Linked DNA regions of Homo sapiens: all the other regions are linked to region 1. Evidence: fine-mapped expression QTL. A gene starts in region 1. Each other region holds a variant in brackets. All regions are shown on one strand. Distances are between the middles of the regions.

Region 1 (5,085 bases):
CATTGTTCCTGGCCCGGACTTCAATCTGGCCTCCCACATTATTCCTGATACCGCACCTGACCCCCATGACTGTATCTCTCTGATCTACCTGATATTCACCCCATTTCCCCATATTTCCTTCTTTACTGTTCCTCACCCTGATCACGCTTGATTTATTGATGGCAGTTCCACCAGGCCTAATCGCCACATACCAGCAAAGGCAGGCTATGCTATAGTACAAGCCACTAGCCCGCCTCTCAGAACCTCTCATTTCCTTTCCATCGTGGAAATCTGTCCTCAAGGAAATAACTTCTCAGTGTTCCATCTGCTATTCTACTACTCCTCAAGGATTATTCAGGCCCCCTCCCTTCCCTACACATCAAGCTCGAGGATTTGCCCCCACCCAGGACTGGCAAATTAGCTTTACTCAACATGCCCGAGTCAGGAAACTAAAATACCTCTTAGTCCAAATAGACACTTCCACTGAATAAGTAAAGGCCTTTCCTACAGCGTCTGAGAAGGCCACCACAGTCATTTCTTTCCTTCTGTCAGACATAATTCCTCAGTTTAGCCTTCCACCTCTATACAGTCTGATAACAGACCAGCCTTTATTAGTCAAATCAGCCAAGCAGTTTTTCAGGCTCTTAGTAGGTGTCAGTGAAACCTTTATATCCCTTACAGGCCTCCGTCTTCAAGAAAAGTAGAACGGACTAAAGGTCTTTTAAAAAGACAGCTCACCAAGCTCAGCCACCAACTTAAAAAGGACTGGACAATACTTTTACCACTTTCGCTTCTCAGAATTCAGGCCTGTCCTCAGAATGCTACAAGGTACATCCCATTTAAGCTCCTGTATAGACGCTCCTTTTTATTAGGCCCCAGTCTCATTTGACACCAGACCAACTTAGACTGTGCCCCAAAAAACTTGTCATCCCTATCTTTTGTAGTCATACTCCTATTCACCATTCTCAACTACTCATACATGCCCTGCTCTTGTTTACACTGCCGGTTTACACTGTTTCTCCAAGCCATCACAGCTGATATCTCCTGGTGCTATCCCCAAACTGCCACTCTAAACTCTTGAAGTAAATAAATAATCTTTGCTGGCAGGACTATGCTGAATCTCCTTAGGCACTCTCTAATCAGATGTCCTATGTCCTCCCAATTCTTAGACCTTTTATACCTGTTTTTCTCCTTCTCTTATTCCATTTAGTTTCTCAATTCATCCAAAACCGTATCCAGGCCGTCACCAATCATTCTATACGACAAATGTTTCTTCTTACATCCCCACAATATCACCCCTTACCACAAGACCTCCCTTCAGCTTAATCTCTCCCACTGTAGGTTCCCACGCCACCCCTAATCCCACTTGAAGCAGCCCTGAGAAACATCACCCATTCTCTCTCCATACCACCCCCCAAAAATTTTCGCCGCCTCAACACTTCAACACTATTTTGTTTTGTCTTATTAATATAAGAAGGCAGGAATGTCACGCCTCTGAGCCCAGGCCAGGCCATCGCATCCCGTGACTTGCATGTATACATCCAGATGGCCTAAAGTAACTGAAGATCCACAAAAGAAGTACAAACAGCCTTAACTGATGACATTCAACCACTGTGATTTGTTCCTGCCCCACCCTAACTGATCAATGTACTTTGTAATCTCCCCCACCCTTAAGAAGGTTCTTTGTAATTCTCCCCACCCTTGAGAATGTACTTTGTGAGATCCACCCCTGCCCACCAGAGAACAACCCCCTTTGACTAATTTTCCATTACCTTCCCAAATCCTATAAAACAGCCCCACCCCTATCTCCCTTCGCTGACTCTTTTCGGACTTAGCCCACCTGCACCCATGTGAAATAAACAGCTTTATTGCTCACATAAAGCCTGTTTGGTGGTCTCTTCACACGGACGCGCATGAAACTAACAATGTATTGGGGAGAGAAACACACATCTGCAAATATCATTGCTGAAAAGAAATCATTGCATTAAGTGCTATAGTTAAAGCGTATAAACCCAACACTGAACACAAAGGAGGGAAGGACTGGGTCTGACCTGGAGAGCAGCAGAGGAGAAAGTGCGAAATGAAAGGTACCCAGCAACAGACAAAGGGTCACACTTGGCCCCAGACATAGTGCTTCTTCCTCAAGTGCGAAGGGAGTATTGCAAACACCAGATATGCAGTGTTATCTGTATTTGGAAATTGTTTATATTCAGGCCATTCACTTCATTCAGTCTGGCAATTTCATTCAATTAATCTCATTCATTTCTTAATTAATCTCATTCATTATTCTCTGTAAACTCCACGAGAGCGGAGACTTTGTGTCTTCTTCATCGGTAGATCCCCCATGCCTACTGGCACTAGTAGTTGCCCTAAATTCACTTATCAAAGGCAGCAAGAATAACTGGGACTCTTCTCTCTTGCTTTTCACGATTTCCAGCAGGGCACAAAGGCCTACAGTCCCCACCTGAAAAAAACAGACTTGACTGGAGGCAGCGCCTCTTCTTCCAAATACAGCCCCAGCTGACGCAGATTAGCACAACCGCCTAAGCGGCGGAACTCTGGAGAGTGCGGAACCTAGGATCCTAGGAAACTGAAGGCAACGGAACCTGGGGGCGATGGAATCCGGGAGCGGTGGAACCCGGAGCCTGTAGAACTTGAATCTAGAGGAACCTGACAGCGGCGCCGAGGGGGCCACCCGGACTCTGTTTGGAACGGAAGCACAGTGTCCGCCGCTTCCTGGTTGCGGGTCAGCGCCCAGGTCCTGGGCTGGCCGCCGGGATGTTGCCCTACACAGTGAACTTCAAGGTGTCGGCGCGCACCCTCACGGGGGCCCTCAACGCCCACAACAAGGCGGCGGTGGACTGGTGAGGACGCCGAGCTTCCAGGTCGCCAGGATCGGCCAGGAATGTGTGAGGGGGAAGGGGGAAGGACAAGAGGTTTCACCCCCTGGTTAGTTTGGCCTCGCTAAGGCAGGGAGCCGCCCTCACGCAATGAGCTTGCTTTCAGTTGGTGGATTTTTGTTGTTACAAAAGTGATAATAGCCCCGTGTGGGAAATTCCCCCATGCAAATACATTTCCCCTCTTTCTCGCGTATTTCTCTGCTGTTTTCTCTGCACCTCGCCCTTTTGCCGTTCCATTCCTCTCTCTTTTCCTCTCCTCCAGCTTCCAGGCTTCTCTCTCTCCACCATTAATTCCCTGTGCACTTTCTCTTTCCCATCCTGTCTTTTCTTTTTCGTTGTCTTGTATTCCTGTTGTCTTTCAACAATGTGCCAGACCCTGTGCTAGGCGCCTGTTCTTTCACCTGTCCTTTTCACCTCTTTTCGGGCTCCTCCTGTGTAGAACATTCCTGCCTTCAACAGGTCGTCTTTATTACTCTCTCCTTTCACTATAAATTACTACTGCAGCTCTGAAAACTACTCATTAGACAAATGTAAAGCAAAATTCTGTGGCTGTGGGATGTTGTTAGGAGGACTGAAACGTCTTGTGCAGTGTTTGTCGTTTTATTTAGTTGGAAGGACTAGGATTAGTCGCAGTATCCCCAGGCACATTGTGGATACTAAGGATTAGAAATCGGATAAGCGAAAGACGTATGCCTACAAGAACAGTCAGAGGGCACAAGTTCCTTTTTATGTCCTCGGGTCTCTATTTTCATATCTTTTAGAACTTTTTTTATCCGAATGAAAAGTGAATTTCAACAAGCATTTTAAGCTTAGCCAGATCTTTTATTTAAGTGGGATAATGATAAATACTGGCCTTTGGGTTTAAATGATTTTATTAATGGTGGTACATATGAATTAGACTTATCATTTATTTAGGCTTGGCAAGAAAGAAGTCGTCCTGCTTTGTTCTGTACTTAAACTTTAACATTACTGTTTTGCTAGGGGCTGGCAAGGTTTAATTGCTTATGGATGTCATTCACTTGTGGTAGTGATTGATTCCATTACTGCCCAAACTCTTCAAGTTTTAGAAAAGCATAAAGCTGATGTTGTAAAGGTAAGTAAAATCCCACTTTGACGCTAACATGTTGTCTAGTCTAAAGTTTAATACTGTGTATCACTAAGCTCTCATTAAGTCTTACGTGTAAGTGTTGAATAGCTTTTAAATATAACAACCTATTTGGGGTAGCCTAGAATTTTCATATATATGACTTAATGTCAATACAGGGTGAGTTATTAAATGCTAGTTGTTAGATCATTTTAAGGCAGATGAAAGTTCTACCATTTACAAGACCACTCAGTCATTCCTTAGTTTTGAGCACTTACCATATGCTATGGATATGGAGATGAAAGCCCTCAGATAATTCTCCATCTTATAAGGAAGACTCACAGCGTGATAGTGTGATAAGTGAGACTTGCGTAACACGCTGTGAGAAAACAGAGGAGCTGCATATTGCCTGGTTGTGAGGAGAGTCACAGAAGTCTACAGTTTCAAGACTAGTAGACAGTAGTTAGCCAAGTAAAAAATTGACAAGGAGCATTGCAGGGAAAAGCAAGAATATACACAGAAGTAAGTAGCGTGCCATAAAGATGGCTAAAGATGGGACACTTGTAGGAGTGATGAAATAAGAGGCAGCCAGAGAGATTCAGCTGTCTGTCCTGAAGTTTTGTAAGATTACGAAGGAGTTTGGATTTTTTTTTTTTTTAGACAGAATCTCACTCTGTCGCCCAGGCTGGAGTGCAGTGGCATGATCTCGGCTCACTGTAAGCTCCACATCCTGGGTTCACGCCATTCTCCTGCCTCAGCCTCCTGAGTAGCTGGGACTACAGGCACCCACCACCATGCCCAGCTAATTTTTTGTATTTTTAGTAGAGACCGGGTTTCACCATGTTAGCCAGGATGGTCTCGAGCTCCTGACCTCGTGATCCACCCGCCTTGGCCTCCCAAAGTGCTGGGATTACAGGTGTGAGTCACCGCGCCCAGCAGGAATTTGGATTTTTGAGTAGGAGATTGATGTGACCATATTCGCGTCTTAGAAAAACTCTGGCAGCAGTGGAGGATCTGCTGAAGAAATGCAAGACTGGAGGCAGTAAGATCATTTAGGAGATTTCTGCAGTAATTTTGGTGGGAAATTCTAAGGGCCTAAAATAAAGCTGGGGCATGGAGAAG
Region 2 (5,105 bases), 65 kb after region 1:
ACATAATGGTAAAGGGATCAATTCAACAAGAAGAGCTAACTATCCTAAATATATATGCACCCAATACAGGAGCACCCAGATTCATAAAGCAAGTCCTGAGTGACCTACAAAGAGACTTAGACTCCCACACATTAATAATGGGAGACTTTAACATCCCACTGTCAACATTAGACAGATCAACGAGACAGAAAGTCAACAAGGATACCCAGGAATTGAACTCAGCTCTGCACCAAGTGGACCTAATAGACATCTACAGAACTCTCCACCCCAAATCAACAGAATATACATTTTTTTCAGCACTACACCACACCTATTCCAAAATTGACCACATACTTGGAAGTAAAGCTCTCCTCAGCAAATGTAAAAGAACAGAAATTATAACAAACTATCTCTCAGACCACAGTGCAATCAAACTAGAACTCAGGATTAAGAATCTCACTCAAAACTGCTCAACTACATGGAAACTGAACAACCTGCTCCTGAATGACTACTGGGTACATAACGAAATGAAGGCAGAAATGAAGATGTTCTTTGAAACCAACGAGAATAAAGACACAACATACCAGAATCTCTGGGACGCATTCAAAGCAGTGTGTAGAGGGAAATTTATAGCACTAAATGCCCACAAGAGAAAGCAGGAAAGATCCAAAATTGACACCCTAACATCACAATTAAAAGAACTAGAAAAGCAAGAGCAAACACATTCAAAAGCTAGCAGAAGGCAAGAAATAACTAAAATCAGAGCAGAACTGAAGGAAATAGAGACACAAAAAACCCTTCAAAAAATTAATGAATCCAGGAGCTGGTTTTTTGAAAGGATCAACAAAATTGATAGACCGCTAGCAAGACTAATAAAGAAAAAAAGAGAGAAGAATCAAATAGACGCAATAAAAAATGATAAAGGGGATATCACCACCGATCCCACAGAAATACAAACTACCATCAGAGAATACTACAAACACCTCTACGCAAATAAACTAGAAAATCTAGAAGAAATGGATAAATTCCTTGACACATAAACTCTCCCAAGACTAAACCAGGAAGAAGTTGAATCTCTGAATACACCAATAACAGGAGCTGAAATTGTGGCAATAATCAATAGCTTACCAACCAAAAAGAGTCCAGGACCAGATGGATTCACAGCCAAATTCTACCAGAGGTACAAGAAGGAACTGGTACCATTCCTTCTGAAACTATTCCAATCAACAGAAAAAGAGGGAATCCTCCCTAACTCATTTTATGAGGCCAGCATCATTCTGATACCAAAGTCGGGCAGAGACACAACCAAAAAAGAGAATTTTAGACCAATATCCTTGATGAACATTGATGCAAAAATCCTCAATAAAATACTGGCAAACCAAATCCAGCAGCACATCAAAAAGCTTATCCACCATGATCAAGTGGGCTTCATCCCTGGGATGCAAGGCTGGTTCAATATACGCAAATCAATAAATGTAATCCAGCATATAAACAGAGCCAAAGACAAAAACCACATGATTATCTCAATAGATGCAGAAAAGGCCTTTGACAAAATTCAACAACCTTTCATGCTAAAAACTCTCAATAAATTAGGTATTGATGGGACATATTTCAAAATAATAAGAGCTATCTATGACAGACCCACAGCTAATATCATACTGAATGGGCAAAAACTGGAAGCATTCCCTTTGAAAACTGGCACAAGACAGGGATGCCCTCTCTCACCACTCCTATTCAACATAGTGTTGGAAGTTCTGGCCAGGGCAATTAGGCAGGAGAAGGAAATAAAGGGTATTCAATTAGGAAAAGAGGAAGTCAAATTGTCCCTGTTTGCAGACGACATGATTGTATATCTAGAAAACCCCATTGTCTCAGCCCAAAATCTCCTTAAGCTGATAAGCAACTTCAGCAAAGTCTCAGGATACAAAATCAATGTGCAAAAATCACAAGCATTCCTATACACCAACAACAGACAAACAGAGAGCCAAATCATGAGTGAACTCCCATTCACAATTGCTTCAAAGAGAATAAAATACCTAGGAATCCAACTTACAAGGGATGTGAAGGACCTCTTCAAGAACTACAAACCGCTGCTCAAGGAAATAAAAGAGGATACAAACAAATGGAA[G/A]AACATTCCATGCTCATGGGTAGGAAGAATCAATATTGTGAAAATGGCCATACTGCCCAAGGTAATTTACAGATTCAATGCCATCCCCATCAAGCTACCAATGCCTTTCTTCACAGAATTGGAAAAAACTACTTTAAAGTTCATATGGAACCAAAAAAGAGCCTGCATCGCCAAGGCAATCCTAAGCCAAAAGAACAAAGCTGGAGGCATCACACTACCTGACTTCAAACTATATTACAAGGCTACAGTAACCAAAACAGCATGGTACTGGTACCAAAACAGAGATATAGATCAATGGAACAGAACAGAGCCCTCAGAAATAACGCCGCATATCTACAACTATCTGATCTTTGACAAACCTGAGAAAAACAAGCAATGGGGAAAGGATTCCCTATTTAATAAATGGTGCTGGGAAAACTGGCTAGCCATATGTAGAAAGCTGAAACTGGATCCCTTCCTTACACCTTATACAAAAATCAATTCAAGATGGATTAAATACTTAAATGTTAGACCTAAAACCATAAAAACCCTAGAAGAAAACCTAGGCATTACCATTCAGGACATAGGCATGGGCAAGGACTTCATGTCTAAAACACCAAAAGCAATAGCAACAAAAGACAAAATTGACAAATGGGATCTAATTAAACTAAAGAGCTTCTGCACAGCAAAAGAAACTACTATCAGAGTGAACAGGCAACCTACAAAATGGGAGAAAATTTTTGCAACCTACTCATCTGACAAAGGGCTAATATCCAGAATCTACAATGAACTCAAACAAATTTACAAGAAAAAAACAAACAACCCCATCAAAAAGTGGGTGAAGGACATGAACAGACACTTCTCAAAAGAAGACATTTATGCAGCCAAAAAACACATGAAAAAATGCTCACCATCACTGGCCATCAGAGAAATGCAAATCAAAACCACAATGAGATACCATCTCACACCGGTTAGAATGGTGATCATTAAAAAGTCAGGAAACAACAGGTGCTGGAGAGGATGTGGAGAAATAGGAACACTTTTACACTGTTGGTGGGACTGTAAACTAGTTCAACCATTGTGGAAGTCAGTGTGGCGATTCCTCAGGGATCTAGAACTAGAAATACCATTTGACCCAGCCATCCCATTACTGGGTATATACCCAAAGGACTATAAATCATGCTGCTATAAAGACACATGCACACGTATGTTTATTGCGGCATTATTCACAATAGCAAAGACTTGGAACCAACCCAAATGTCCAACAGTGATAGACTGGATTAAGAAAATGTGGCACATATACACCATGCAATACTATGCAGCCATAAAAAATGATGAGTTCATGCCCTTTGTAGGGACATGGATGAAATTGGAAACCATCATTCTCAGTAAACTATCGCAAGAACAAAAAACCAAACACCGCATATTCTCACTCATAGGTGGGAATTGAACAATGAGATCACATGGACACAGGAAGGGGAACATCACACTCTGGGGACTGTTGTGGGGTGGGGGGAGGGGGGAGGGATAGCATTGGGAGATATACCTAATGCTAGATGACGAGTTAGTGGGTGCAGCACACCAGCATGGCACATGTATACATATGTAACTAACCTGCACAATGTGCACATGTACCCTAAAACTTAAAGTATAATAATAAATAAATAAGGAAAAAAAAAGGCTGAACCCTCAAATACTATCACACTGGACGGTAAGGCTTCAACATGTGAATTACGAGACTTGCGAAGCAGAGAGAAAGAAGAAACTTTATACCAGAGTCGTGCTTTCTGAAAAATGAAAATGCTTTGGATTAAGGCCAACAAATAGGTACTAAGGCATTGCCTGATGGTGAGAGTGAAGCAGGGCCAGGCACGGCAGCTCGGTATAAACACAGTGAGCAGACAAGGCCCAGAGCCTGGGTTTGTGTCAGTCCAGCTGGCTAGTGTAGCAGTTAGGACTCCCACGGGGACACAGAGACCAAGCCTGGTCGAGACACCACTGAAAATCCCCTTCCAAACAGAACAGGTGATCTCTGGTGATATTCACAGCCACACTGCTGAAAACTGCCATACTCACCTCCATCAAGCATTGGAAATCAAGAGCTGAACAAGTATGAATTGTTTTTCACATTTAGCCTTTCTGAATATCTTTTCACGAAAGATCATTAAGAATACGTGTTGTCAACACACTAATGAGGTGGCTTCACGAGCTGAAACAAGCAGCTGAAATTGGGAATAAGACTGAGAATTACTTCAGGACAGCAGACCCTGGCCCCAGTGCCAGCCCCCACAGAAGCTGCTGGGCAAGGCCTGGGCCCTTCCCTTTGCCACAAAGCCTGGGTGGGGGTGGAGGAGCCACTCTGGAGGTGGGGCTTCTTCAGGAAGAAGGCCAGGTGGTGGGTGGTAGGTGCTTCCCCTTGACTGGTCTCTGAGCCATTTCCTACTGCTCACCGTTACCTTTTTCCTCCTCTGTTGCTAACGAAATGCTCTGCCAAATGTGGCTGGCTGCCCCACCACGGTCTTGCTCTAGGTTTAATCATTGCTTTGGACGTAGTAGCAGGACATTTTGTTCTTTCAAAAGAGATAACAGAGCAGATTCATACAAGCCTCATGTCCCTCTCACACAGGTACCCGATCAGAAAGTCTCAACATGTAGACACAATGAAATAAGAAAACAATTTCTCTCTCATCTATTTGTTTCCTGAGGCTTCCTCTTGCCTCAGGATGGTGTTAGGTTTCAGTGAATCCTGAGCTCTGTGACTACCCAGGATATTCCATTCTCAGCAACAGGATGTGATTGAAGTAAAGCATTCAGGCACAAACTTGTAACTGTGCTGCTGAAATAAAAGAGGGCCACGCAGGGAAGGCACCCAAGGGAGAATGTTCCAGGCAACGGGGCCGTTTCTCTGGGAGCCTGCATGAGATTATTTTGACTGACTCAAAATGACTTGTGAATGAAAGAACCCTTTTAATTAAAACGTAATGGCAGTTTTAATCAAGGACATGTTGCTGCCACTTTA
Region 3 (5,105 bases), 74 kb after region 1:
ATCACACTCTGGGGACTGTGGTGGGGTGGGGGGAGGGGGGAGGGATAGCATTGGGAGATATACCTAATGCTAGATGACGAGTTAGTGGGTGCAGCGCACCAGCATGGCACATGTATACATATGTAACTAACCTGCACAATCTGCACATGTACCCTAAAACTTAAAGTATAATTAAAAAAAAAAAAGAGGCTCTGATGGGCTGCTTCAGAAAGACAGGATTTGAACAAATCGTTGAGAATTTAAGAACAGATAAAAAGACAATCCTCAGTAATCACTGCCTTAAAAATGTAACCAGATTTTGGGAGGCTGAGGCGGGCAGATCACAAGGTCAAGAGATCGAGACCATCCTGGCCAACATGGTGAAACCCTGTCTCTACTGAAAATAGAAAAACTTCGCTGGGTGTGGTGGCATGTGCCTACAGTCCCAGCTACTCGGGAGGCTGAGGCAGGAAAATCGCTTGAACCCAGGAGGCAGAGGTTGCAGTGAGCCTAGATCGTACCACTGCAGTCCAGCCTGGCTCATAGCGAGACTCTGTCTCAAAAACCAAAACCAAAACAAAATGTAACCAGAGGGGTCAATTTTCGCTTTGCAGTTAGGGTATTTTTTGTTTTGTTTTGTTTTTGTTTTTGTTTTCAGACGGAGCTCTCGCTCTGTAGCCAGGCTGGAGTGCGGTGGCGCTATTTGGCTCACTGCAACCTCTGCCTCCCAGGTTCAAGAGATTCTCCTGCCTCAGCCTCCCGAGTAGCTGGGACTACAGGGGCATGCCACCATGCCCAGCTAATTTTTTTGTATTTTCAGTAGAGACAGGGTTTCACCATGTTGGCCAGGATGGTCTCGATCTCTTGACCTCGTGATCTGCCCGCCTTGGCCTCCCAAAGCGCTGGGATTACAGGCGTGAGCCACCACTTGAAGCAAGGCAGCCGACGTGAAAGCAGAGCGAGAAAAGCTACACACGATGCGGCCTCTGCTGTTCCTGTTCCTGTTCCTGGTCAGTGATGTTGCAGGTTTAGGGTCAGCAAACCACAGCCGGCAGCCCGAATCCCTGCCTCTTTCTAGAAATATGGTGTTACTGCAACAAAACTGTGCCCACCTGTTCATTGTCTGACTGTTTTCAATGATAGGGTTGAAAAGCTAGAAGGGAATCAAGTGGCCTGAAAAGCCTAAAATACTTACTCTCTGGGCCTTTACAGAAAAATAGTTCAATAACTCCTTCTCTAGGGTCGAAATGCTTCCTGGTGATGAAATCTCAGCTGTCTAACTGCCGTATTGTTTACAGACTGGTATGAGGTCCTTTGTAATTTTTCTGCAGCTAGGTGCATTAGAACCTACCTCCTTAGAAGGTTGTTGTTATAAGCTCCGTCCCATCTGGCTTCTTCATAGGCCCATGTTGCCATGGGAATGGGCCCAGGAGACTCCAAGGTTTATCCGCCAGGCTGACCTTAGTCTTATTGAGAGGTGACATCGTGCTGGCAGTCCTCAGAGCCCTCGCTCGCTCTCGGCGCCTCCTCTGCCTGGGCTCCCACTTTGGCGGCACTTGAGGAGCCCTTCAGCCCACCGCTGCACTGTGGGAGCCCCTTTCTTGGCTGGCCAAGGCCGGAGCCGGCTCCCTCAGCTTGCAGGGAGGTGTGGAGGGAGAGGCGCGAGCGGGAACCGAGGCTGCGCGCGGCGCTTGCGGGCCAGCTGAAGTTCCGGGTGGGCGTGGGCTTGGCGGGCCCCGCACTTGGAGCAGCCGGCCGGCCCTGCCGGCCCCGGGCAATGAGGGGCTTAGCACCCGGGCCAGCGGCTGCGGAGGGTGTACTGGGTCCCCCAGCAGTGCCAGCCCATCGGCGCTGAGCTCGATTTCTCGCCAGGCCTTAGCTGCCTTCCCACGGGGCAGGGCTCGGGACCTGCAGCCGGCCATGCCTGAGTCTCCCACCCCCTCCATGGGCTCCTATGCGGCCGGAGCCTCCCAGATGAGCGCCGCCCCCTGCTCCAAGGCGCCCAGTCCCATCGACCACCCAAGGGCTGAGGAGTGCGGGCGCACGGCACGGGACTGGCAGGCAGCTCCACCTGCAGCCCCTTTGCGGGATCCACTGGGTGAAGCCAGCTGCGCTCCTGAGTCTGGTGGGGACGTGGAGAACCTTTATGTCTAGCCCAGGGATTGTAAATACACCAGCAGGCACTCTATCTAGCTCAAGGTTTGTAAACACACCAATCAGCACCCTGTGTCTAGCTCAGGTTTGTGAATGCACCAATCGACACTCTGTATCTAGCTACTCTGGTGGGGACTTGGACAACCTTTGTGTCCACACTCTGTATCTAGTTAATCTAGTGGGGTCGTGAAGAACCTTTGTGTCTAGCTCAGGGATTGTAAACGCACCAGTCGGCGCCAAGTCAAAATAGACCACTCGGCTCTACCAATCAGCAAAATGTGGGTGGGGCCAGATAAGAGAATAAAAAGCAGGCTGCCCGAGCCAGCAGTGGCAACCCGCTGGGGTCCCCTTCCACACTGTGGAAGCTTTGTTCTTTTGCTCTTTGCAATAAATCTTGTTACTGCTCACTCTTTGGGTCCACTCTGCTTTTATGAGCTGTAACACACACCGCGAAGGTCTGCAGCTTCACTCCTGAGCCAGGGAGACCACGAACCCACCAGAAGGAAGAAACTCTGAACACATCCAAACATCAGAAGGAACAAACTGCAGACGCGCCAACTTAAGAGCTGTAACACTCACGGCGAGGGTCCGCAGCTTCATTCTTCAAGTCAGTGAGACCAAGAACCCACCAATTCCGGACACATTATTGTTGATAAATCTGAGGTCAAAGGCATCAACAGATGATTGAAAAGTTTAACTCCAAGTGCCGTT[T/C]CATTATCAAATATTTTTAAGCAAATCTCCATTTTACTCCAGATACTTCTGAACACGTTCTGCTATGAGATCTTCACTTTATTCCAATCTTTTGCATTCTACCATCATTTTTAAGCCAAAATACTTCAGGCAGGCTAGAAGATGAAAAAATATTTATGTCCCAAATAAGTGGCATGCACTACTGTCGTAGAAGAGAATCCATGGGGTGCAGGGACCCACGTACCTCCCTCTTGGGAAGTGCATCTCAGGTCAGGGACTCCTACAGGGCCCAATGACTGGGGCTTCAAATAATCCCACAGAGCTGAGCCAGGAAGTAGAACAATAATTAGAAGTGAAAAATGGACAAGTCTGCAATATAATCCAATGGAGACAATTCAAGGAGGAAATTGGCAAACCACTATGTTTGCACAGGTACGTTATGGAAGGAAAGGAGGGAATCCTAAGAAACAAGAGATTTCTTAAGGCTGATTTGTGCAGACATGATGCAGATCATTTTCTTAAGAACTATCTGCCCAACAACACAATTCAGTCCTCCAGGTTTTTACTTCCCAGTGTTCTTCAAAAATGTGTATCAATGAGGAATTTATTTGAAGAACAGCTCCTTGTTTGAAGTTGCTGATCTTTGCCTAGAATAGGCCAAGGAAAATATACCTCATCCCGTTAAGGAGTTAGAAAGCTGTTCCAGCAGATCATATTGTAGCAAACCTGACATAAGTTCATTTAAATGCTAAGGATCTGATCTGAGCTTGTGTTTCTGGAATTGCCAATGCACATTTCAGAGGGCCTCAGTAACTGTCAGCCAAGCCTTGGTTTTGCTTTTTGCCTTTGGCAAACCCACTCAAGAATGGTTCTAAACACAAGGACCAGAGATGTGGAACAGGGTGAAAGCAGCGGCGCTGGGAACACCTGCTTCCCGGCAATCTGGCTGCCTGGCCTTGGACAAGTTATCACCTGAGCCTCACTTGTAAAATGGTGATAATAGGGTCTCCCGATAATAGGGTCTCCCTCCAGGGGTGGCTGAGAGTCAGAGAAGGGAGCTGCGAGGGCTTCTCAAGATCAAGGATCTGTCAGCTTAGCTGCTCCTGGGAAGGAGGCTGAGACTCACATTGTCAGCTTTCACTCACTAAAGAGAGTCTTGCTTGAGGGGCTTGGACAAACAGGAGCTGGGATTAGAGTGGGTGGGACTGGGAAGGAGAGAGAGAAAAAAGGAAAGAAGCAAAGATTGACTCTCCAAATCTCTAAAATCACCCACCCTACAAGTGCAGAAAGCTTGTTCTGAGCAGAAAGGACTTGATCCGGAGCCAGGTAGATCACCTTCTCTCCTGGAGGCAGCTCTGGAAAAAGGCTCTTAGGCTTCTGGCAGTTCCTCCCCTGAGAATCTCACCCTCTGCAGGTCTCCTCCTGCCTGGGAAACAAAGTCTCTCCAGTCCTTTTGCTGCCTTATGCCCCTGATCCCTGCACCCCCGGACCGGACCCCCAGCCCCATCCCATCCATGGGAACCACCAAGCTCCAAGTACTTATTGAGCCACCACCTTCTTCCAGGGACTCACCACCCCTGTCGGGGGATGCAGGGTTGCAGTGGAGAGCAGCCAGCTGGGGTCATTGGGAATACCAGAGTTGGGGCTTGGATGGAAACTGAGTGGGGAGGGCAGCAGTTCTGGGGAGGTGGGAGGAGATGTAGGTAAGTGAAGGGGGCCAGGGAGCAGCCCTGCAGGTAGGGGGCCGGCCAGAGGCTGGCAGCAGGAGAGGAGACCCCTGCAGGCAGTATGGACAGTGGGGCAGAAGTGAGCAGGCGGGAGGGCACATGCCACTTGAGGGCCCGGTGTGAGCTCAGCGAGGGGATCCAGCCAGGGTCCCTCCTGCAGAGGAACCAGCCTCAGTGTGGTCCGAAGAGCCCCAGGAGCTCAAGAAGGTGGCAAAGCCATGGCAGGCAGAGGGAAACTCAGGGAGGGGAAAGAAAAGATCGGAACTGAGGGGAGTCCTGCAGCAGCTACAGCAGGGAAGTGGTTCTGCAGCACCGTTTCCAGATTGCAGGGCTCGTTTAGAACCGTCTCAGCCTGCTGGGGTGGGAGACTGGAGAGGAGCTGCCCACAGCCTCCAGGGTGTTGTCAGAGCTTGGTGCTTGCCCTGCTCTGTCGGCAATCAGCACGGTTGCTGTGATGACACTGAGCTGCCTTGGAAGGAGATGCACAGGTAATGGGGACCTTTCTCAGGAATGCCATAAACTGTGACATAGGCCTCTCCTCGGGACTTTACAAAG
Region 4 (5,105 bases), 24 kb before region 1:
AATAAAGTAGGGAGTATCCAAGAGTATCCTTATAATAAAATTACATCTACTCATTTCCATTTGGATATGCCCTCTTGAGTGGAAGAAGGGGATGGAGTACAGTTGGCACACACCTCAGTCACCTAACTACCAAATTATGGTTGTTAAATATGGCTGTAATAAAAAAATTTCAAGCTTTTCTTGAAATCTAGTTATACCCATGGGGATGTATTTAACACGTGATACCACTTGCCTCTTCTTTTGACAGAAAGAATAACTGGGCTCAGTAATGCACCTAGAGACTCAGATTCCAGACCTGCCCACTTGCTTTACTATCCAAAACAACCATGACACATGACTTCTCTGGCGGGGTGTTGGCCAAGACAAACTGAACTATAGAAGATCCTTGACTTGCCAACGTTCAAATGATGAACTTTCAAAAATAGCGAAACTGGCTGCAGAGCAAAAGCTTTTCAGCTCTGCACAACACCAACAGATGGCGCTAAGTGTCACCCTTGTGGAGAGCAGAGGGACCTCGGAAGGGCCTTTGGAAATCTAATCTGGTTTTGAGTTCTTGGTGGGAAAATGCACCTTTAAGTTGGGGGAGTTTGAAGACGTTGCCAAGACACGTGCTGCAGCATTTGATCTTTTCTGCCGCACTGGCTTCTGCAATTAACATGCTTTCACCAGTGAAACTCAGGTTGCGGGGAGAGCATTCTTCCAGGTTCATGCCTGTTGTCATGGAGTAATTATAATTCATGTCTCCGTTCACAGTGTCCTGGTTTGTAGAATAAAATATCTGGTCCACCCACCCAGTGGGATCTTTGAGAATCCATTCATTTTAGAGTCAGCATCTGTGGCTGGTTCCAAGACTGTAATTTGCTTCCTTGGCAAATGCCACACTACATCAAAAGGGGGCAAAAGAGTATGATTGCTCTATTTTTACTTAGAATCCAAGTGGTAATTTATGGAATACAGGGGTTCTCAACCTCAGCACTATTGACGTTGGAGCTGGATAATTCTTTGGTGGTTGTGGGGGAGGGGCGAGGGCGGGAGTCCTGTGCTTTGCAAGATGTTTAGCAGCACCTCTGGCCTCCACTTGCTAGATGCCAGCAACACCTCCCCACTCTCTCCCAATTTGTGACAACCAAATACGTTTCCAGACATTGTCAAATGTCTTTAGGAGGCAAAACCATCCCTGTATGAGAACCACCATTTTAGTGCTTTGTACAAGTAGGATTCAGTGTACAAACCTGAGTCGATTCTACCTCGGACAGTGATGGTACCTGGAATAGCACCCAAAATCAGGGAGTGAGAAACGCTTACCTTTAGCATTTGAAAGAATGAGCTGGTGGTGATGAGCTCAAGATTTAGAGTCAGACAGGTTTAGGTTTGAATGTGGCCCTGTCACTTTGTAACTGTATAAGCTTGTGCAAGTTACTTGATTTTTTTGAACCTCAGTTTCCTCATCTATAAAATAACAGTAATACCTGCCTCTTCAGGTGGTTAACACTTAAATCAGTTCAATGATGTAAACCACTTAGTACACAGCATACACTATGTAGTGTGAGCTACTACCGTCATTATTATATGCAACATCATCTCTTCTCAGATTTCTATAATTAGCCTTGGTTATTATTTCGGTTATTTACTTCCTCATCAGAGTCTTTCTTTAGTTGTCAGCAATTTTTGAACCCTCTTTAACAATAGTCAGCACTTGTTTTTTTGCAAGAAATGATTCTAAAACAGTTTGCAAATTTCTACATAAGAAATTGATGCAATAATAACAGCAGCAGCAGTAATTTCTATAGGATTACTGAGATAGAGCTATCATCGTGGCCAGGCTTGCTTCTATGTCTAAATTCCAGACATTCTTGATCTTAAAGGGCTTCTATTACCAGAATTCAGAAGCACTGAATCAAAATTCAGAAGAGAATGTTCTAGATTAGGAATCAAAGTGCCTTGACAATGAGATTGTACAGTCTGGCTCATTTCTATGGTTCCTTGGAGATTCACCCTCTCCATGAGAAAAGAGGCCATTTGCAATTCTGCCTGATTCCAGAGCCCTTTTATTTGTTTACTGGGTACTCATGCCAGAGAAAAAAGGCAGCTTCCAGATCCATGCAAATCACATTGCATTAGTGCTTATATTTACAGATAAACAGCTCCATTAAGCACTGGAAAAGCCTTCTTATACTTGGACAACCAGGTGAAAATATATAAATTGAATTTCACACTCATGGCACAAATTCATCCTTACAATACAGTCCCCCAAAGCACTTCAAGTGATTTTGTGTGAAGAGTTTCTGAGATGAAATGGTAAGATATGACTGCTCTGAGGGAGGGGGCAATAGGGAGAGGAGTTACTTCATTAGCATTGTCAGCTTTGTCACAAGGTGACATTATGAAAGAATTTAGCCTCTTTGTAGACCATTAAGGGAATAAATACATATTGTAATCTAATTGGCAAAACTGCAAAAAGGCCCCATCTGGATAACCCACCACTTTCATTATGATGTGCTTATGAAAGATATTTGAAAGTCAAATATCTGAATTTTGAAGAAGAAGAAAAAAAAAGGTTTGGCCTACTCCTTGTTTAGAGAGAAGATATAGATAACATTCCAAACAATGGTTTGTAT[C/T]GGTGCTGCTGAGCTCAAGGCCCAGGCAATGAGGTGGGTGTGGTAAGGGTCTCCTCAGGCCGATTTAGAGCCTAGACTGAAGGTGGCTTCTAGTTACCTGGACTCAGGTATCTGTCTCTTCCCAGGGCTGCTGTCTTTCCTGCTGGGACAGGGAGAATAGAGGACAGGCAACTCTTAATAGTAAACATCCCTCAGAGATTCATTAGGAGTCTATAGCAGGGATGGCAGAGTCCATCAGAACTGAGCAGATTCTCAGCCAACTACCTGCACCCCCACCCCACACACATGGGGGGTCCATGGAGAGGATCTCTAACCTGCTGCCTGCCAGCAAGCCCTAGCATTACTCACTAGGAGATGTTAGGCAAGTTACCTTATTTTACCAAGTCTCAGTTTCCTCATCTGTAAAATGCGGATTCCTGCGCATAGTGGGCTGTGAGAATTAAATGGGATGACAAATGTGAAGCCCTGAGCACAGCACCTGGCTTATGGGAGTGTCCCTTACCCCTCCTCCTTTCTAACATAGGAGAAGGTAGAGATTCTCAATTCCTCTTTCAACAGCAATAACAATAACAGGCCACCACAGTCTACAAATTTCTGTATGTCACGGGATTCATAAGAAATTGAGAAGTACATTTCTTTCGAGGACAAACACACTCAATTTTTTTTACTGTATTTCTAGTATATATAGAGAAAAGCAAAAAATACAACTCCAAGAGACCTCGGTAGTAGTCTCTCCTCTCCCTGTAATGTGTTGTGTGACCATTGATATTCCCTTGATCAGTCTGATTCCTGGTTACCTGGACAAGGTGATCTTCACAGTGAATTCTAGCTGTGATGTTTGCTGACTGATTCTCCTACATAGTCAAGGCTCTGTAGAGTGAGCCTTTCAGGGATTGTCTGTGAACCCTTTCCTTCCTCCAGAAACATTTCCCCATCCACATGGCTATATGAGATCTCTGGCTTTCCCTGGCCAAACAGGGTTCTTCCAAGTATCTGATCCAAATGAGTGAGTTCAAGTTCTTCTTCATGAGTTGTTCTGGAATTGAGAAAGAGCTATAGGAAGCAATGAGATATAGCTGAAAACCTGCTGACAGTCACCTTGCCAGCCATCTGGTGAAAAATAGTCTGCAGCAAGAGAGAAAAAAGCCAACACTGAGAGAGAAGCAGAAAGGAGAGATGCAGGGAGAGTCTAGTCTGTACTTGACTCCCTAGTTCTGATTGTCTCACCTGTGCCCCTCTCCTTTCTGAAGTTTTCCTTTCTTGGATTCTGTGAGCCAAAGAATTCTCTTTTTGTTAAAGCTACTTTGAGTTCGTTCTCTGTCCCCTGCAACCAAAAATTCTGATTTGGAGCATCTTTTTATGTGATCTAAGCATCCCTATACTCATCTAAGATGGCATGGTTTTTAATATTTTATTAAACCTACTGTTATGCTACCCTTGAAATTCAGCTTCTGTTGCAACAAGCTTTTATCGCAAGGGAAAACAGGGAGTTCCTCCATGGTATATAATCCTGTCCTCTCCAGGTCCCACAGATATCCTCTCTGTGAGGGCCCAAAAAAGAGGAACATGCCACAGAGTAAGCCAACACCAGCCAGGGAGGATGGAGAGGCAGAGCTGGCTGGGGTCCCCCTGAATCTGCTGCTGTTAGAATTTTCTGTCAGTGTGGAGTTTATTAAGAGTGGATCTAACTTTCAGAGGAGAGTGCAAATTTTCTCTCAAGCCAGTTTTAAAACATTTAGGCAGAGTAAAAAGTCAAAAAAGACTTTAGGCTCTGAAGTCCTGCATTCTAGCCTGACACAGGAGGGTTTCCCTGGTGGCTCAGCTCTTACATGAAGCTCTGTTTTTTTGTGTGAAACATCAAAAACTCAATGTTTCTCAGAAAGTTCTGAAAAGAATCTTATTTCCCAGGCAACAGCTTTTCACTTGCTGTCTTCCCCCTGGGCCTCCACAAATTAATCATGAGTATAAATAAAAGCACTACTCAAGTCGGTGACTGCGGCCCTGCCCTGCCTGTTGGGATAGCAATGGAGAAATCAAGAACAGAGTGAGGTCCTAAGAAAAGCAGTGGAGCAACTCAAGGCTGAGTGTCCAGACTATAGCTGGGCGGCTGCAATGCTGGTCAAAAACAGGGCCTGCCAAGCTCTGATGCTGCAGGAACACATGGGAGCTTGCCTTCACAGGCAATGCCTCCTGACTTCGCAGGAGCTGGATGCTTCCTGCTTTCAGAGGAGCCCGATGCATCCTGATAGGAGGCAGATGTGCCTTTTGCATCTGATGCCATCCACTGACAAGGAGTGTGGACTGTTCACTGGCTCTTATTAAAGAATGCCTCAGACACTGCTTATACCAATATTTTACACCACAGTTCAACTTTTGAAGGGTGTATTGTTTTCAGTGTCAAAGTAGGTCAATCTGGATGCTTTAAGCTGCAGTAACAGAAAACCAACTCAAATTGATTAAACAATTTGGGGATCCATTGCTTAACAA
Region 5 (5,105 bases), 38 kb after region 1:
TTATGAGTATCACTCTAGGGGAAAAAAAAACATCTTTATCATATGTTTCACTATCCCAAAGCTTGCTGCAGGAGGCAGAAAGTAAATCTGAACTTAGTCAGAACATCTCTGCCCGGGAACATTTTGTATTTACCGATATTGATGGCCAAGTGTATCATCTCACTGTTGAAGGAAACTCAGTAAAAGACAGTGCTCGGATTCCACCAGATGTGAGTACAACCTTGATTAAATCTTCATCAAGAAGATTTTGTTTTGTTGGTTCCATATCCAGTGAAGGCATAGTTAAGTTGGAAACTTCAGAAAAGCCTAATGTAAATAAACTTTATTTAAGGAGATATTATCGATTAAACTTGTTCCATACTGCTAGAGAATAACGCTGTAACTATTTTGATTAAATGTTTACTGTGTGCTACTCATTTTTATCCCTGTAATAATCCATGAGGAGTTATCTCCATTTTACCCATAACAAAACTGTGGGAGAATAAGTAACTTTCCCAAAGTTATCCAGCTTACTCATATGGCAGAGCAGTGTTTTAAACTCAGGCCTGTCTGACTTCAGTATCTGTCTTCTTTCCATTTCAGGCATTACCCTGAAGGATTTGACTTACAATCTAGTATTATTTTTGGATAATAGTAATCAGGTTGTAAGTGTAATAGTATTATTAACATTTACTAACTTACATATATTCTTATGGCCTTGTGGAATCTGTAACTAAAGTTTTGCCATTAATCATTTGTGTCAGCATGCATCTCATAGATAGTTTTTAATAGATGGATCATGAAAATGTTTATGTTAATTAATGCAGGCTATTATAATGGTTAAATGAAGGCATGAGGGGATTTTTTAAAATAGGTATATTTATTTTAAATTGCTATCTAAAAATGGAATGCTCTAGTAGAATGCCAACCCCCATAATTTTATAGGTGGCTTTGGGGTCTCATAAAGTTACAATCTAGATGTTGGCTGTGGCTACAGTCTTTTGAAGTGTAATGGGACAGAAGGATCTATTTCCAAGTTGGCTGCCTCACAGGCTATTGCACATTAATGCTGGCTGTTGACGAGGGACCTTAGTTCTTCATGTCGATCTTTCCATAAGGCTGCTTGAGTGTCCTCACGACATGACAACTGGCCTCCCCTAGAGTAAGTGATCTGATAAAGCAAGAAGGAAGTTGCAGAGTCTATTATGACCTGGTTTCAGAAGTCTCTTCAAAGGCAACTTCTTAATTAAACATTCTATTTTATGGCTAGGAAAGTAGATATCTTAAAATGTTGCTTCATATTATATACAGAATTTCATTTCTTTAATATTTTTTTTTATTAATGGACTTTATTATAATATTGATTTTTAAATCCAGTTTTTGTTTTGTTTCTTGACTATTACCAGAGTTTTTACGGTATTCAGTGTGTGTGCTAGTCCACTAATGGTCAATTATTCAAACCACTAGAGTTTTCTTACTTTTTACCATGGATACCATTTGAATTTTTATGTTGTACAATAAATGCAAAAATAAAATTTCTTTTAATAAATAGAGAAGTAATTGAGCAGTAATATTATTTAATAGCTAACATGTATTGACTATTTACTGCATGGCAGGCATTGCTTTAAGGCCTTTGCCTTTATAAATTTATTAATACTAGCAACAACTCAAGTTTCATGAACTTACCCTACTTTATGGACAATAAATCCAAGACAGAAAGGTTAAGTAAACATGCCTCAAATCACATACCAGTTTCAAGCTGGGATTCAAGCCCAGGCAGTGTGACTGCAGAGCCCAGGCTGCTGAGCCCTCCATGATACCACCTCTGAGCATCTATTAGAACTGCAAGTTCCTTTCTTCCTCCAAGTTAGATTGACTACAGCAGCATTTCATTCTTATGTTGTGCTTCTATATGTAACTTCTGAGCAAAGCTTTCTGTGAATTTAAACTGCATATGCCTTTAGTAAACAGCATCTCTTCACCTTCATGATTCCACAATGTTCCAAAACGTGTCAGTGAAGCTCTGGATCCTTTTTTCAATAGAAAAATCACGGCACAATTAGTTATAAAAGAGCTTTAAGTTTCCCTTGGAATGGATTTAGTTATCCTTTTGCAGTGAGAGATAAGTTTGAGTTGGCTCTCTGGAAAACCTTCCCTTTACTTCTCTGTTTTTCTTACTTTAATTTCCCCCTTTTTTTTTTGAGGTATTTGTTCCTCAAAAGACATCCCCTCTCTTTAAATCTAGTTCCAGTAACTACTTAATGTCTATGAAGTTGAAATCTCCTATTTCTTCATAGTTGAAATTGATAGGCAATGTAGCTCTTTGTTAGTGTCTAAAGTCTGTTTTAGGATTTGATGACTAAAAGCATACTAAAGCACAGCCCTTTAAATTAAGTTTTATTAAAATATTTATTATAATGTCTTATACAGCATAGTGAAATTTATATTTGTTTGTTGCTGTTGTTTTCTAGGGAAGTATGGGTAGTATTACCTGCATCGCTTGGAAAGGTGATACATTAGTGCTTGGAGATATGGATGGAAATTTAAATTTCTGGGACTTGAAAGGCAGAGTATCCAGGTATAAGCCAAGAATGAAATCTTGTTATTTCATTAAAAAAAAGAAATGAAATC[T/TTTTTGTTTTG]TTTTGTTTTGTTTTGTTGAGATGGTGTCTTGCTCTGTCGCCCAGGCTGGAGTGCAGTGGTGCAATCTCGGCTCACTGCAAGCTCTGACTCCCGGGTTCATGCCATTCTCCTGCCTCAGCCACCCGAGTAGCTGGGACTACAGGCACCCACCACCACGCCCGGCTAATTTTTTTGTATTTTTTTAGTAGAGACGGGATTTCACCATGTTAGCCAGGATGGTCTCGATCTCCTGACCTCGTGATCCGCCCACCTCGGCCTCCCAAAGTGCTGGGATTACAGGCAGGAGCCAGCACACCCGGCCAAAAAATGACATCTTGATATGGTTCCATTAGAGGCTTGTGACTTGGCAAGAAGGATCAGTAAACTCGTGGAGGTGTAGCTTGGACCCTTGGGTCCCTTCACCTAAACTTGGGAGGATGGGCCTTGAGCCAAGCATTCTTAGGAGATAGTTATCTGCAAGTGGCCCCTGCAGAAGTCTTAGCTGACCTTAAAGGGCAGGCCCTTTCTGTCAGATGTGGCCCCCAGTCCCAGCAAGTAAAGGGTTCTCCCATCATCAGACCTGTTAGAAATGGAAATAGTGAGAGATGTTAGACATAGCTTCTGGTGACCAGATCTCACTCTACATTGTATTGATGTTTTTGTTTCTTTGTCTTCAGAGGAATACCCACACACCGAAGTTGGGTGAGGAAGATTCGTTTTGCTCCTGGTAAAGGAAATCAAAAATTAATAGCAATGTACAATGATGGAGCTGAAGTGTGGGATACTAAAGAGGTAGGCCCTCTCCATGAGGATAAAACGTAAATAAATTGTTAGCCATAGGAACTGTGCTTTGTTAAAAAACTTCTTTCTGATTTAGAAATGAAAAGTACTTAATGAGTTCGTCAAGTTTCCCATAACAAATTATTTTCTTTACTTTACAGTATTTGTGTTCTAAAGGTAACAACTCAAGATTTATTTATTTATTTATTTATTTATTTTTATTTTTTATTTTGATATGGAGTTTCACTCTTGTCGCCCAGGCTGGAGTGCAATGGCGCGATCTCGACTTATTGCAGCCTCCACCTCCTGGGTTCAAGTGACTCTCCTGCCTCAGCCTCCCTAGTAGCTGGGATTATAGGCATGTGCCACCACGCCCGGCTAATGTTTTGTATTTTTAGTAGAGACAGGGTTTCGCCATGTTGGGCAGGCTGGTCTCAAACTCCTGACCTGAGGTGATCTGCCCGCCTCAGCCTCCTAAAGTCCTGGGATTATAGGCGTCAGCCACCGCGCCCAGCCGATTTATTTATTTTTTAATATTATCACTGTCTCTGAGACCTTTAAAATGCTGCCTATTTGTGGAAGATAGATTGCCAGAGGCTGTTCAGTTCTAAACTTGAACTGGGCCTTTGCCACAGACTGTCTTCCTTGACCATTTAATCTAGAATAATAAAGATCTTCCTTTTCTGTCTGGAAGTGATGCCCAAATTCACTCTTGAAGGTTCAGATGGTGAGCAGTTTAAGAAGTGGCAGAAATGTGACCTTTCGTATATTGGATGTGGACTGGTGTACGTCAGATAAAGTGATCTTGGCCTCAGATGATGGGTGCATCAGAGTCCTAGAGATGTCTATGAAGTCTGCGTGCTTTAGAATGGATGAACAAGAGTTAACCGGTATGGAATCCTAATGATAGGGGGCTTTGAAACCTGTCTTTACTTTGCCACAAGCTCTTGTATTTTGGGGAGAGAGCTGCTGCTTCTGTTTCATTTCAGTCTTATTTTCTTAGAATCTGAGTTTAAGAAAATATATTAACTTGAAGCTTGAGTGTTTTTACTGCTGAGATGCTGCAATCTTTGTAACTATAGATGTCAATCATTCTCAATTCAGGTTTTTTAAGTGCCCCTTTTGACTCTTTTCTTTGGTTTGTTAACAAGATAAAAGATGTTTATGTTTATAAAAATGGCTTACTCAGAATTTAGGCAAACTCATCAGAGGACATAAATCTAGTGATAAGGCTGCTGGCTTTTTAATAATGGCCTTATGTCTTTTGCAACCATATATCATTGAAAAGTCACTTTAGAAAGTGTTCTGAGTATTATGAATTTTGATGCCAATCTGTGACTAGTAAAATGACCAGTCAAGCAAATTAGCAGATTGCAGTATCTTGCTCTGTTTTGTATGGTTGTTTTGACATTGCTTTTTACCAGAATAAAAAGCATTTTAGTAGAATATACTCCATATATGACTTCTAAAAAAAAAAAGAATGGGACAATTGTGAATGCATCCATTTATCAGTTTAAAAGGCAGCTTTTGGCTGATGCAATACAGTGTTCATCCTTGGAAGATACTTGATCCTACTTGGAGTGGAGGAGGGAACTTCTTGCCTGAGTATTCTCCCAGCAAAACTTTGGTGCACACTCTAGGCTGATATGTAGAAAATTTCATGAGACTTTTCTGAACCTTTGTAGAGTCAATATTTGGCACTTCAGACACAGTAAGGTTTTAAAAACCTGGTTTT

Direction of the effects. Positions count from the first base shown, and alleles are read on the strand shown. Sizes are in standard deviations (SD) of each study's normalised expression. Not every link is listed here.
For the expression in substantia nigra of the gene that starts at base 2,699 in region 1, G is the high allele of the variant in region 2 and A is the other (moderate effect, 0.52 SD a copy in GTEx).

What was found. PIP is the estimated chance that this variant, and not a neighbour inherited with it, causes the effect.
Region 2: its variant is the best candidate, but not a certain one, in a credible set for the expression of WDR11 in substantia nigra (GTEx, PIP 0.56).
Region 3: its variant is the best candidate, but not a certain one, in a credible set for the expression of WDR11 in whole blood (INTERVAL, PIP 0.51).
Region 4: its variant is the best candidate, but not a certain one, in a credible set for the expression of WDR11 in whole blood (TOPMed, PIP 0.52).
Region 5: its variant is the best candidate, but not a certain one, in a credible set for the expression of WDR11 in whole blood (INTERVAL, PIP 0.77).

What each region holds. Positions count from the first base shown.
Region 1 is chr10:120,848,664-120,853,748 of GRCh38, forward strand. It overlaps WDR11 (WD repeat domain 11), which reads left to right and starts at 2,699. Exons shown (of 29, transcript NM_018117.12): 1 at 2,699-2,843; 2 at 3,861-3,972. The coding sequence starts at 2,758. It overlaps WDR11-DT (WDR11 divergent transcript), which reads right to left and starts at 2,516. Exons shown (of 3, transcript NR_033850.1): 1 at 2,031-2,516. RefSeq lists enhancers at 2,341-2,885, 2,364-2,483, 2,644-3,113, 2,886-3,429, 3,124-3,183.
Region 2 is chr10:120,913,230-120,918,334 of GRCh38, forward strand. The region is part of intron 2 of LOC105378519 (a long non-coding RNA gene); the gene reads right to left. Among named protein-coding and RNA genes, the nearest start is that of WDR11, 64 kb to the left of the region's middle. The variant G/A (reference allele first, on the strand shown) is at 2,108.
Region 3 is chr10:120,922,192-120,927,296 of GRCh38, forward strand. All of the region lies in intron 2 of LOC105378519 (a long non-coding RNA gene), which reads right to left. Among named protein-coding and RNA genes, the nearest start is that of WDR11, 73 kb to the left of the region's middle. The variant T/C (reference allele first, on the strand shown) is at 2,845.
Region 4 is chr10:120,824,518-120,829,622 of GRCh38, forward strand. It overlaps LINC02930 (long intergenic non-protein coding RNA 2930), which reads left to right. Exons shown (of 5, transcript XR_002957103.2): 5 at 248-794. All of the region lies in intron 1 of WDR11-DT (WDR11 divergent transcript), which reads right to left. Among named protein-coding and RNA genes, the nearest start is that of WDR11-DT, 24 kb to the right of the region's middle. The variant C/T (reference allele first, on the strand shown) is at 2,619.
Region 5 is chr10:120,886,628-120,891,732 of GRCh38, forward strand. It overlaps WDR11 (WD repeat domain 11), which reads left to right. Exons shown (of 29, transcript NM_018117.12): 16 at 62-209; 17 at 2,451-2,557; 18 at 3,268-3,382; 19 at 4,089-4,260. Among named protein-coding and RNA genes, the nearest start is that of WDR11, 38 kb to the left of the region's middle. The variant T/TTTTTGTTTTG (reference allele first, on the strand shown) is at 2,611.